Linked DNA regions of Homo sapiens: regions 1, 2 and 3 are each reported to be linked to region 4. The links are microRNA targets in miRTarBase. Many come from high-throughput screens and were not tested one by one. Region 4 holds a microRNA gene; each other region holds the end of a gene's coding sequence.

Region 1 (3,000 bases), not on the chromosome of region 4:
AGGAAGTTGTAAAATGTTTATCAGTTTATGAGAAATTGTCACAGTATAGGTTCATCTCTCCCTAAAGGGGGAAAAATGTCAGTGCTACAAAATCTTAAAGGAAACAGCCTGCAGTGAAACTTTGAGAAAAAGAAAATCCAACAACAACAAAACCAACCATAAAAATCCCTCTCTCTAGCTGGTTATCAGAGGCCACAGAACAGCCTGCTTTCTGCAAACTCTCTGAAGAGAGATCCTTAATGGATGTCCCATTCAATTCTAGTAAATTCTTGCTGTGACTCTCGCTGTGCCAATGCTTTGATGCAAAATTTCTGCACTTCAGCTTCCCAGTTGTACTCTCTTTCTGTTTTCTAAAAAAGGACATAGTAACTCCTTAATAATAGATAAGGTACTATGCTGCATGGCTCTATTAATGATATTTTCTGAGTTTCAAACCTTATTCCTGTCATTTATTATTATTATTTCTTTCCAAGAGTGTGGATTTTTGAAGTTGGCAACAGGCAACCTCGGGGCAAAGAAAGCTCTATAATACATCTCTGTCTAGACATAAGCTAAAGTGTGGAATTCCTTTACTTTTGAGTGCAGACATAAATCATGCAGCATTGCTCATGAATGATTCATGACTGTCTATATGATGTATCCATGGTGGCAAATGAAAGGCACCAACCTTGCTGCAAATTGGTGTTCTAAGGGAAGGTGGCTTGATGCTCTTCCTCGGGATGGTGCCGGCATGGCTATTTGTATCATAACGCAAGCACAGTGTGCATAAGAATGTCAGGTCTGACTCGTCAGCACGTTAATTTTGGAAATGACAACTCTTTCTTGATGACAGCAGATGCTTCCAGGGAGGAGAGGCTGACAATTTTAAATGAAAAACCAGTTGACAAGACTCAAAAAAATATGTTTCCTGAGGGTGGGCCTATAGCATTAGAAGCCTCACTCTCTATGGAGAAGACTGACCCCTTGGAAATGCTGACTGTGTATGTCCCATAGGGATCAGAAGCTCACAAAAGCCACAGGTGCTGCTAGAGCTTGCCTACTGTGTCCCCTGCCAGAAACCACTCTATACTGATTATTCTAGACCACTGGTTCTCAACGAGGTGAAATTAGGCCCCTCACTCCCACTCCTTAGGGACATTAGGCAATGTCTGGAGAAATTTGGTTGTCACCAGTTGCTGGGATGTTGCTAGTGGATAGAGGCCAGTGATGGTGCTAAACATCCTAAAAGCACACAGGACAGCCCCCACCAACGAATAATGATCTGGCCCCAAATGTCAATCCTACTAAGATTGAGACACCTTGCTCTAGAATATGGCTCTCCACAGGAGCTATGGCAAAGCCCAGGTTGGGGGAGCAGAAAAAGAAAGAACATTGATAATAAAGACAACTGTAAAGTCTCTTCAAGGACCCTATCAGATCTGTGCCAGGGTTTTTAGGGCAGGAGCATGGAATAAGCGACTAACTATGCCATGTGGTTTCAGAATTGTTAATTTTGCACTTGAATCGAGGTGGCATCAGATACCCTGTGTGTTTTGTTTTTTCTGTTACTATACTAGCAGCATTACCAGGGCAACCTAGAGACTCTTCAAAGGTTCACTTTAATTTTTCAGTATCTAATATATACATTTTAAAAAATGTTCAACAAATGGAATTGTATTGTGCAAGACTCACTCTACCCTAATCTTTAATTTAAATCAGCACTTGAGGTGGAAAGGGTGTCCTGAATCTGTGTTTCAGACATAGGGCTGAGTGGTTGTTACTACAACATGGCAAACACAGTCCCGAACCACAAAAACTGCCAGTGTGTACTACTGACTTTTAGCCAAATCTGAACTCAAAAGCCAGAGATGTTCATAAGGATTTGGATTCACAGTGGGTTTTCTCACCCTGGTTCTGGTATTTATATTGCCTGATGACAGTGAGTTTAGAGTGTGTTTAGCTACAAACCAAACTCAAATTTCACATCATGAAAAAGTCTGATGATTAATGCTACAATTTTAAAGATCTGTCTCTCTTTGGATTCTTTAGTTGAGCTTATGGTGTTCTTTACGTAATAGATTTTGATTGGCAGTTTCGAGGTTTTCCATATGAAATGTGTGGTTTGTAAGAATTAAATTGTGAGCCCCCACGTAATGGACAAAGTACTTGTTCCCAACCCTGTCCAGCAATAGGCCCGTCTATGTGCCCACCCCTCTTTCCTTAGTCTACAGGGCATGATTCACCCTAGGGGAGCAATTGACTGGATGCTCTTGTGTTTCCCAGCTCGGGAAAGATATTTCCCCTGACATTCCTTTACCAAACTTTTTTTTTTACACAACTCAAAACTTTACTGTGCAGTCAAATTTAGCCCCTTAGACTCTAAAAGTGAAAAAACAAATATTACAGGAGAACAATGCCATGTACAATGTACAGAAGAGTAAAAATGAAGTAAACCAGGGGACAGTGAGCTGGTAGGTCAGAGGCATTACCAGGGAAGGAGCCTGTGCAAGGCTATTTCTTTCTTTTTGTTCCAGCAATCCAGTCGTCAAGTCACCATCAAGCATTGGTAAATACAAAAGCGATTTAGATAGCTATATACTATATATATTTTATATAGCAAGAGAGAAAGAAATTTCCTCTTAGGAAAATATTCACTTTTGTCAACCCTAGAAAGTTTTGCTGGTGACCCTGTTGTAGCTGGCAGGAGTTTGTTTGTTTTGTTTTGTGTTAAACATGTGCAGTGTTGAAGCCATAGCATCCTTTCCTAAGAACTCATCATTGGGTGGAAGTTTGTCCTACACAGTCTGCTTGCCTTGGCATTCACGTTTCGAACACTGAGCAGGCTTCCACCAGTCCCCGTTGTGACAATGACAGATGTTACATTCGTCCACTTTCACTTCAATGCCAGCTGGAATTATCGTCGTTCCTGCAAAGCAGTTTGGACCTGAAACACACAGATACATTGATTAGTTGATTAAATCTGAGAGGCTCCCTTTCTCCCCACCATCCAAACCCAAGCCC
Region 2 (3,000 bases), not on the chromosome of region 4:
GCACCTTTCTGCAGCTTCCCTGGCTCCCTTTCAATTTTTTTTTTTTTTTTTTTTTTTTGAGACGGAGTTCTGCTCTTATTGCCCAGATTAGAGTGCAGTGGCGCGATCTTGGCTCACTGCAAGCTCCGCCTTCCAGTTTCCAGCGATTGTCCTGCCTCAGGCCTCCCAAGTCACTGGATGTTAATTACACCCAGCAAGGTCGCCCGCCACCACGCCTGGCTAATTTTTTTGTATTTTTAGTAGAGACAGGGTTTCCCCATGTTGTCCAGGCTGGTCTCTTAACTGCTGACCTCGTGATCCACCCACCACGGCCTCCGAAAGTGCTGGGATTACAGGCGTGAGCCACCGCACCCGGCCTTTCAATTTTTGATAAGGATCTTTCCTTTTTTTTTTTTTTGAGACAGTCTCACTCTGTCGCCCAGGCTGGAGTGCAGTAGCGTGATCTCGGCTCACTGCAACCTCTGCCTCCCGGGTTCAAGCGATTCTCCTGCCTCAGCCTCCCGAGTAGCTGGGAGTACAGGCGTGCGCCACCATGCCTGGCTAATTTTTTGTACTTTTAGTAGAGACGGAGTTTCACCGTGTTAGCCAGGATGGTCTCAATCTCCTGACCTCGTGATCCGCCCGCCTCGGCCTCTCAAATTGCAGGGATTACAGGTGTGAGCCACCGCACCCAGCCGAGTGGTTTCTTTAAACTCTGCAACAGACTTGACGAATTCCTTGGATTTTGACCTTTAAGTGTAGCAGGTGTGCTGGAAACAGAGCAAATCAACTTGAAAGCTTCTTGGAGGTTGCTCCAAACAGCAGCATATAATTATATTCAATGGTCTCCCTATCTCTCGGAAAAGCAACTCACAAAAACATGTTTATTCTCATTGCCAGCACTCACTAAACGCTACTAGGATATCGCTGATCTGTTCATTTCCTAAATCTCTGCTACTAACACTTTAAACCGAGAGTAAACTTGCAGTCTCAACATCCAATTTTAGAAGACAAGTGTGACGAGGAAGGATTTATCAACTGAAAAATGTTTACTGACACAGGGAATCTAGAAATGTACCTTCCAGATACATACAAATATTTAAGCAAAAACTGTTCCAAGGGTATTTCCTGCAGCACCTGCCCAAAAGGAGCAAACTGGTCTTAACAAAATCAGGTGTACATCAATGTTACGCAGTCAGAATGAGACACATCTGAATGCCTAACATAAAAAGATCTACAGTAACTAGGTATCTATACACATTGATGTATAAACTGTTTATGGAAAGAAGCTTCTTATACAGTGTTTCTGGAAAGGGAGACTGCTATCCTGCTGTCTATAATGTGTGTATGGATTACTAAGAAAGGATTGAGTAATTCTCCACTACTGCCACTAGCCTCTGGAGGAAGAGGGCACACAGTTTTTACCTCTAAGAATTATTATAAGACATTCAGCCTTATTTGGTTGTATGAAATACTATGCTAGAAAATGATCCATAATTACACCTTGTACTACTCATGTTGTACTTTAATGATTAAAATAAATACCATGTTGCTGCCTGGTCTGGAGGACAAGACACACCATCAACTGACTCAGTGTTCTTCACAACCAGACTACAGGCAATTTTTTTCCAAAACATACATCTTTGGGAAGCAAACAAATTATTTATGGAAGAAAAAAGGAGGAATGTTTCACATTCAGGCAAACATAATACTGTCAGTGTGTTTGGACTAGAGATTTTATTTTAGAAGTATAAAGGATGGAGGCGCGATATTTGGCATTTTTAATTTAGGTTTGTTTTATTTAAGTTTAATGTTAATTCCATGCTGTGTTTCAGTAAGAACAATACAGATTCTGTATCTGTGGCTCCAGTCAGATATCCAGTAGTACAAATTAGCTTCAAGTTACACATACTGAACAAAAGAGGTTGAGCGAGCGAAGGAGGGGAGGAGTGAGGGGAAGGAGGTAGGGGGAGGGGGAAGGAGAAGAAACAAAAGAATTGAACAGGCATGCAGGCTTTTCCATACCACCTTCAACGCTAACCTGCTTCAGTGGGAGAGTAAAGTAGGCAAGAATGAGCAGCCACGGATTGTTGAACTGTTACCAGCACCATGCTTTTCAGCAACATTTCAGCGGAGTTGGAAACATTTTTTACAGCAAAACCATTACAACGAAGTCCCTCCCCAAACCACCTTTAACCATCTCAAGCTAACACCCAATTACTTGCAAACACTGGTATAAAACACAGTTTAAACAATTAGAAAAATGAAAACTGATACCACTTATGCCTCTATAGTGTGATTAACCTCTCTCTTAGATGCTTGCATCACCTATAAGTCTAATGGCTTTCAAATGTAATTTCCATTTGCTAATGGTGATCTTGCCACATCTGGCACGGAGACGACACAGTAATGCTGAAAAAGCCTCTATGTAGTCCTGTTAGTGTCTTAAAGAACCTAAAAGCTGGGACCAGTAAAATCCACAGAAATTCACTCTTGCCTTTAAGAACTTTTGAAAACTGTTTAAAAAAAAAAAAAAAAAACCAACAGGGCAGGAACCTAAATTCTGAGACCAAATGTAAAAGTCAGATTTGGTGGTTCTCAGTGACAATGGGGAGTTTCCAAAGGGTGGGATGGGGAGGAGGGGGTGGTCAGAGATGGTTTCTCTTGTTGGCTTATGTCTCACTGATTTTCGTCTTCCACGTCCTGCAGCGCTTCTTTATTCTGCTCTTCACCTGTTAAAAAAGAAAAAAAGTCAATTATTTCGTATTGACTACATTAGGCTATGGCAGCCACAAACAAAGGTGTCATTCCAAGCATAAAGACTCTTCTACTTGCTACAATTGGTATTAAACGCAGGCAAAGGACTTCTATCATCCTTGACACCTGAGATGCCTAAGCCAAGAAGGGATTATGGTCCTGAAAGTATTTATTGGTCAACAGAATGAAAAAAACTGATGCGCAGTACAACTCAATGTTTTTACGCTAAATAAGCTCTTGACGTAGACAGCCAAGGAAACCATC
Region 3 (3,000 bases), not on the chromosome of region 4:
ATGAAGACCACTGCCTATGGCAGCATTTCCTCTTCTTGGCAGAGGCAAAGTAAAGAAATAAATCCCAAAAGTCACTCAACAATTCTCAATATATTCCATTTTGAGTTGCTATTTAAGTTGAAATGAAAAATTGTACATTTATGTGCTAAAGAACAGAACAATTATTACAATATAGACATGTACAGATTACTTGTTAGATGAATTTAAACAAAACAAGTTAGTTGAAACTTAACTGAAAATTTTTCCCCTTTCAGTCTTTGTGGTGGGAACGACGGGCTTTTCCACTGAAGGGTGAAGACATGGCAGCCTTATTATGTCAAGATGAAAAAAAGGATCAGGTTGAAAGGTCAAGCACAGCTTTCCATGGTGAAATCTTCGGTACCAGTGTACCAGAGAATGGCCACCATCCAAAAAAGCAGTCAGATGGAATGGAAGAATACAAAACCTTTGGTCTAGGACTTACTAATGTTAAAAAAAATAGGTGACAGGGAACAGGTTAAGAAAACTATGTAAATGTAGGAAAGATGGGAGGAAATAAAGCCCTGTTCTGGATCCCCCATCCCCTCCAGAATAAGAGCATGTTCTGCATGTATTAATCTTTTATGCTGTTTATGAAACAGGCAAGATAAGTCTGTTTTTCCTTCTGGAACCATAAGGGTAACCAGATTTTCATCTACAGACAAGTGGTAGTCATTTGTGTTTATCATGCAACTTACTTACAAACACCAAGATATTAATTGCTGCAACTTGATGTCAAATCACATTACTGGGTAATTTTTAAGACTATGTACCCACACCATACATACATACATATATATATACACATACATACAAACCTGTGTGCCAAGTGACAGCTATTTTTTTATATACATGGTAATTCATTAAAATTGCCTTAGTAATATATTAGAATATACAAATATGTGTGTATAAAATAAACATACACACACACACACACCCCTATGTAGTTTTTAAAACACTGGCAATGACCCACTCCCCTTGGAAATGCATGTATGAACTACCCTATGAAATGTAAGCTGCAGAATAGATAAAACACAGGTTTCCACTAATAAAAGACATCTGAACGTCCTGAATATAGAGACAGAAGTTTTTTGTTGTTGTTGTTGTTGTTTTAACATGTTTAACCAACAGAAGTTATTTACAGAAATTCATATATCCAGGCAACACAAAACTCCTTTATTCAAAATCACTGCTATCTTTGGGACTAAACACAGGCTACTTTCTGTTTACTCCTAACAAAATAAAGCAAGCAAATTTGAGTCAAATATTGGTGCACTTTAATACTATCACATCTTTGAAAACTCAATTTGAGTTTTACCAATTAATGTGTCTCATGAAGAGAAGACACCAGTTTTAAAATGAGCCACAAACAGTAAAGCCCTATCAGTATAAAATTTGAAAAAAAAAAAAAAGATGATTGTATTTCTAGATTAGCAAGAAATTAGTTAATTCTGGCTGATTTCTATTTCTAGCTAATTTGGTCATTCTTTGCCATAGCTTACTCTATTCAAATAAACATATATTCTTGCTTGCATCCTAGATTGGAAATTAAAATTTTTCAAAGAACAAAGCTTCAATATTGGATACTGAAGAGTATACATGAAAGAAAATTCCTTTTGAAGCTATTAAACCATTTTTTTCCTATGTGAAAGTTGAGGACAATTTATATAACTCACTTTTTGTCATGTAAAAAAGGTTACTCAAGTTGTACTACCCACATAACTGAAAATATTGGCCATTTGGCCTTATCTGTGAGATTTGACACTAAGTTTTTGTTAGAGATTGGAAATTATACTAGTCCTTTTAAGGGGTAAAAAATTCAATTCAATACTGACAAACTTTTGCTTGTAGTTTTACTGTACATTTATTTTTAAAGAAAAAGAAAACAAAAGCCAGACAAACCCAAGTTGTCCAGGCAAATAAACTCAAATCTTTGTCACGTCTGATATTATAATCTTCTATGTAAGTTTTTTAATTAAAGTTATTTCTATATGCCGTGTGTTGCTTGTTATTAAATGCGACGTATTCATGGCACAAAGCTTTCCCAAGCTGAATAAAAACAAACATTAACAAATTTTTACCTTGTAATGCAGGAAGAAACCCAAGCAAGCTCTAGTCTGTGCTTAAGTGTTAGCATTCTTATTTTTTGAACCTTATTTCTCAAAACTTATAGTAGCCTCAAGAAGTCTATTGATATTGGTCATGTTTATTTCTTGCCATATTTATAACACAGCAAGAGTATTTACAGGAATGAAGTAGCTGACACATATTTTTAGACTCTGTATAATTCAGAACAGTTATAAATATTTAGTTTATGGATTGACTCTGTATCCTGTCATCTTTTCGCCTACCTGATCTTTCTTGGAATAAAATAATATATCCTTGGGGTCAAGATCCATAGTTCCAGAATTTTCTCAGCCATCTGGTTCTGCTACAGCGTAAAATTAGACTGGAAATAAGACAACGTTAAGTAAAAAGCTTCTTTTACCTAACCCACCTCCCAAGGGCTCCATTTGTAAAAGTACAGACCAGAAATTCTACCACTTCCCAGATCCTTTCCAGGGTACCACCCTATTAAGCATTAATTTCTTCATTTTTTAAATGGGGACAAAAATATCTGCTTTATTATTACCACTTACTTATAGAGGTGATTTACAGATTTAATGAGAATATATCAAAGTACTTTATAACTCACAAAAATATAAACTTATATAATGCTGTTTACTTTGTGTTGAGCATATTCTAAATTCTGGGACTAGTACTGGAAACTTTACATATATAGTGTTAGCTCTTAATTCTCAACAGAACCCCACAGTTGCTATAATTACATTTAATGTATAAATGACTTTAGAGAAACACAAAAAAGATTGGGTGATTTGTTAAAGGTCCAGCTAGAAAGGGGCAGTCAGAATTCAACCCAATATTACCTCCAAACAGAGGTTTTACTTTTTCCTTTCTACTCAGAGCTAACACAACAGCATT
Region 4 (3,152 bases):
CTTTCTCTGTTTACTTGGGAAGTCATGATGTGAATCTCAGCCCCATCCACTGAGCATCTGGGTAAGTCTCCTGGAGTAATTTGTCCATGCATCCATTGGATTACTAGTCTCCACTTGCCAAGTGGCAGAACGTCAGCTCTGCCTGGACTCAGTGGGGGATTGGGGAGATGGCTCTGTTAGCTTCTGTGGCTCTGCCATGGCTGTTCTGGCTGCCACTCCAGCCCTCGTTCATGTTGCTTGATAGCACGGCCCATGCTGCTCCACAGAGGTGCTGGCCAACCCTGACCTCTAATACACCCCAGGACCTCTGTTCGCTCACTTGCGGGCATCTCCCTCCTAAGGAAATGGCTGCTTCTGCTAGCCTCCTCTGGTCTAGGTGATGTGGGGGACGATGATTCCCATGGGAAGCATGGGAAGCACAATAGAGGCACACTCTATTGTGTCTATCCAAACCTTACTAATTTGGAGTTTTGTGGGGTGGTGTGCTGTGTGTATGTGTGTGTGAGTTCTTTTGGTTGGATGACACCACTCCTCCCTGGGAGTGGAGATTGTGAAGGAAAGTCTGGATTTCAGATGGCGCTTCAGACTGTATTCAAAGCCACTCTTCTCATCCCACACCCAAGCCCTTCTTCTAGTCCACCCTACTGGATTTCTTCATTGTTTTGGGGGTTTTCCTTCCAGGGGTTAGTTGCTCCCTGCAATTTAGCCCGTGTCACTTTCCTTCTCTCCTTCTCTGGCCTGTCAAACAGACATGCTGGTGTGTGCAAACCCAGGAAAACTGAGGAATGTGGCTGGATTCTTATTGCATGGCCCTTGCATGTTCTGTGAATGTACAGAGGATCTCTAGGGCTTCTTCCACCTCACAGACAAGCCAATTCGAGCATTGGCTTGGGGTCCAGCCAAGATATCCCTTTATGTTCATAATTTCTGTTTTCTAAAACTTTTAAAAACAAATGTGTCCCTTTTTAAAGATATGACTCTTCATGACCATTCTATATCTGTCCTTTTAGCTTCAACTCCTATTTTCTTATTTATTAGATCTTAGTTCAAATGCATGTGAGGAAAAATCTGATTGGCTCCACTTATGATTTAACACAGGCCGGGCATGGATTGGCTGCCTTGGCCCAACCCTGGTCCAATCAATTTACCAGCTTGAGGTGGGTGGCGAGAGGGGAGGGGTGTCCCAAGGAACAAATCATGGTCACCCAGGCCTTCACGTTCAGCATCTGCTGTGCATAGGATACTCTTTCTTTAGAGTCACTATTGATGGGTAAACACAATGACTGATACCTCAAATACATTCATACTTCAAGAATGAACTGTTTTCTGAAATATCAACATGGGGGCCTTCCCCCCATTAAAATTTCCAACCGTAGTGTGCTTTCTTATTTCATTTTAGGTATGAAAAATGATATAGAGTAGGAGTGTTTGGGAGTCTTCTATGTTTTTGTTGCTTAGATGATTCCCATGTAGATTTCTACACTATTCGATTTCACACAGATATGGAGTGATTCACAGCTTAGAAGAATATTGCTGTGTCCTTTTCTGCTGCCTTTCATAATAAGACTTCAATTGCTTTTAAAACACTAACTAAATCTCATTAACATTATCTCCCACATGTTAATAGGAAAAACAGGTCTGTAGAACAGTGACATTTCATGATTAAAAATACATTTATTTAATGGTTGAGTTGCCTCGATTTGAATATTGCCCACTGCTTCCATAATAACAGCAGAAGTTTTTCACAGATGCTTTTTAATGGGTAACCCCTGCTATATCTCCACTAGCAGTATAAAACCTTGAGTAATGTGCATTGATTTGATATGTGCTAATTGCTTATCAGAAATTACTCAGTTGTAGCCTATCACTGCTGAAATTACTTCCAAGGAGAAAACTGGGCACTTTTGAAAGGTGCATTAATGCCACTAGGTCACTAGTGTCACATTTAGTATTCTAAAACAGTAACTGTAATGGCCTGACAGAGCCCAGTGCTCATCCAAAGACATTCGATGTTCACTCAAAGAAGAAGGCACAAAGAGAATCTGGCCCCAAATGTGGAATCGAATGCAAATAAAAATTGCTTCAATCTATTATTTTATAAGTTTATTAAAAATCAGGAACAGCAAATAAAAATTGCTTCAATCTATTATAAGTTTATTAAAAATCAGGAACCTTAGTAAGGTTTGGATAGATGCAATAAAGTATGTCCACAGCTGAAAGGACATACTTTATTGCATGTATCCAAACCTTACTAATTCAGAGTTTTGTGCTGCGTGTATGTGTGTGTAGTAGGAGTATGTGTGTGTGTGTTTCAATGCTCCTGCTTCTGATCTCCAATAAATAAGGTTATGTTTTGTATCCAACTCTGTGGTATACTGGTGCCATATTTTGTCTTGAACAATTCTCAAAATGTTTAGATAATTAGTTCTGTTTAGGATTGAAGTAATCCACTGGGAACCCAGGGTGGGCGCAGTTTGGTGATTGAGGGGGCAGAGGTAGTGGAGTAGTCATGCATGCTTCTCAAAGCCCTAGTGTGGTAGGGATGCATGGAATGGCCAGAGAGAAACCAGGACTGCTGCCTACATGGATGCCTGCCTGTGAGGTGGGAGGTAAGGAAACCTCAGTGGCCCCTACCCTGGCTTGAGTGGAGGCCCAGGGCTGGGGTGGATAGCAGTGGACAAGGAGCACCACAAAGGCAAGGAGCAGGTTTAGGGGAAATGAAACATTGACTCCTTGTGATGAGGACAGTGGGCTGGAATGTTTCACATTTCCCTCCAAGCCACCATTCTTATAGTCACTATTTGCCTAGTGTGACTGCCAAATCTGGGGTCCCTGACACTCTCTCAGCTTCATTTTCCTCTTTGCTGGTCTCATACTCAAGCTGGTACTCGCCATGTGAAGGGCAAGGTGGTCACCAGCAGCTCCAGGCTCCTTACTGCAGGTCCTTATGCTCCACATCTCTGGGGAGGGGCAACAACACTTCCTCTCCCAGGGTCCATATGCACACCTCTGGCGGGCCTTTGTGTGGCCCTGCTGGGTCACATGCTTATGCCATGGAACTGCCATTAAGGAAAGAGAGACAGAAACTATGACTGGCACATTTCCATCTTAAGGGACAGAGGGGTGTTGGGCAGACAAAAGCAGCCAATTTC

Evidence for each region. The annotated mature microRNA hsa-miR-4464 reads AAGGUUUGGAUAGAUGCAAUA and lies in region 4 at 2,179-2,199, shown strand. An mRNA with a match to its seed (bases 2 to 7 or 8) in the 3' UTR can be bound and repressed. Matches are read on the target gene's strand: a 7mer-m8 pairs with bases 2 to 8, a 7mer-A1 pairs with bases 2 to 7 and ends in A, and an 8mer does both.
Region 1: miRTarBase lists VWC2L as a target of hsa-miR-4464. The part of its 3' UTR that is shown has no 7-base or 8-base seed match.
Region 2: the mRNA of YWHAE is a reported target of hsa-miR-4464. Seed matches in the 3' UTR shown: 8mer at 1,767-1,774.
Region 3: the mRNA of KANSL1L is a reported target of hsa-miR-4464. Seed matches in the 3' UTR shown: 7mer-m8 at 832-838.

What each region holds. Positions count from the first base shown.
Region 1 is chr2:214,575,595-214,578,594 of GRCh38, reverse strand. It overlaps VWC2L (von Willebrand factor C domain containing 2 like), which reads right to left. Exons shown (of 4, transcript NM_001080500.4): 4 at 1-2,923. The coding sequence ends at 2,775. Among named protein-coding and RNA genes, the nearest start is that of VWC2L-IT1, 67 kb to the right of the region's middle.
Region 2 is chr17:1,342,789-1,345,788 of GRCh38, forward strand. YWHAE (tyrosine 3-monooxygenase/tryptophan 5-monooxygenase activation protein epsilon) reads right to left here. Exons shown (of 6, transcript NM_006761.5): 6 at 1,487-2,711. The coding sequence ends at 2,659. Among named protein-coding and RNA genes, the nearest start is that of YWHAE, 56 kb to the right of the region's middle.
Region 3 is chr2:210,020,434-210,023,433 of GRCh38, reverse strand. It overlaps KANSL1L (KAT8 regulatory NSL complex subunit 1 like), which reads left to right. Exons shown (of 15, transcript NM_152519.4): 15 at 255-2,013. The coding sequence ends at 485. It overlaps RPE (ribulose-5-phosphate-3-epimerase), which reads right to left. Exons shown (of 6, transcript NM_199229.3): 6 at 1,174-3,000. Among named protein-coding and RNA genes, the nearest start is that of KANSL1L-AS1, 8.0 kb to the left of the region's middle.
Region 4 is chr6:90,310,575-90,313,726 of GRCh38, forward strand. MIR4464 (microRNA 4464) reads left to right here and starts at 2,168; the gene lies at 2,168-2,259. All of the region lies in intron 1 of LOC105377891 (a long non-coding RNA gene), which reads left to right.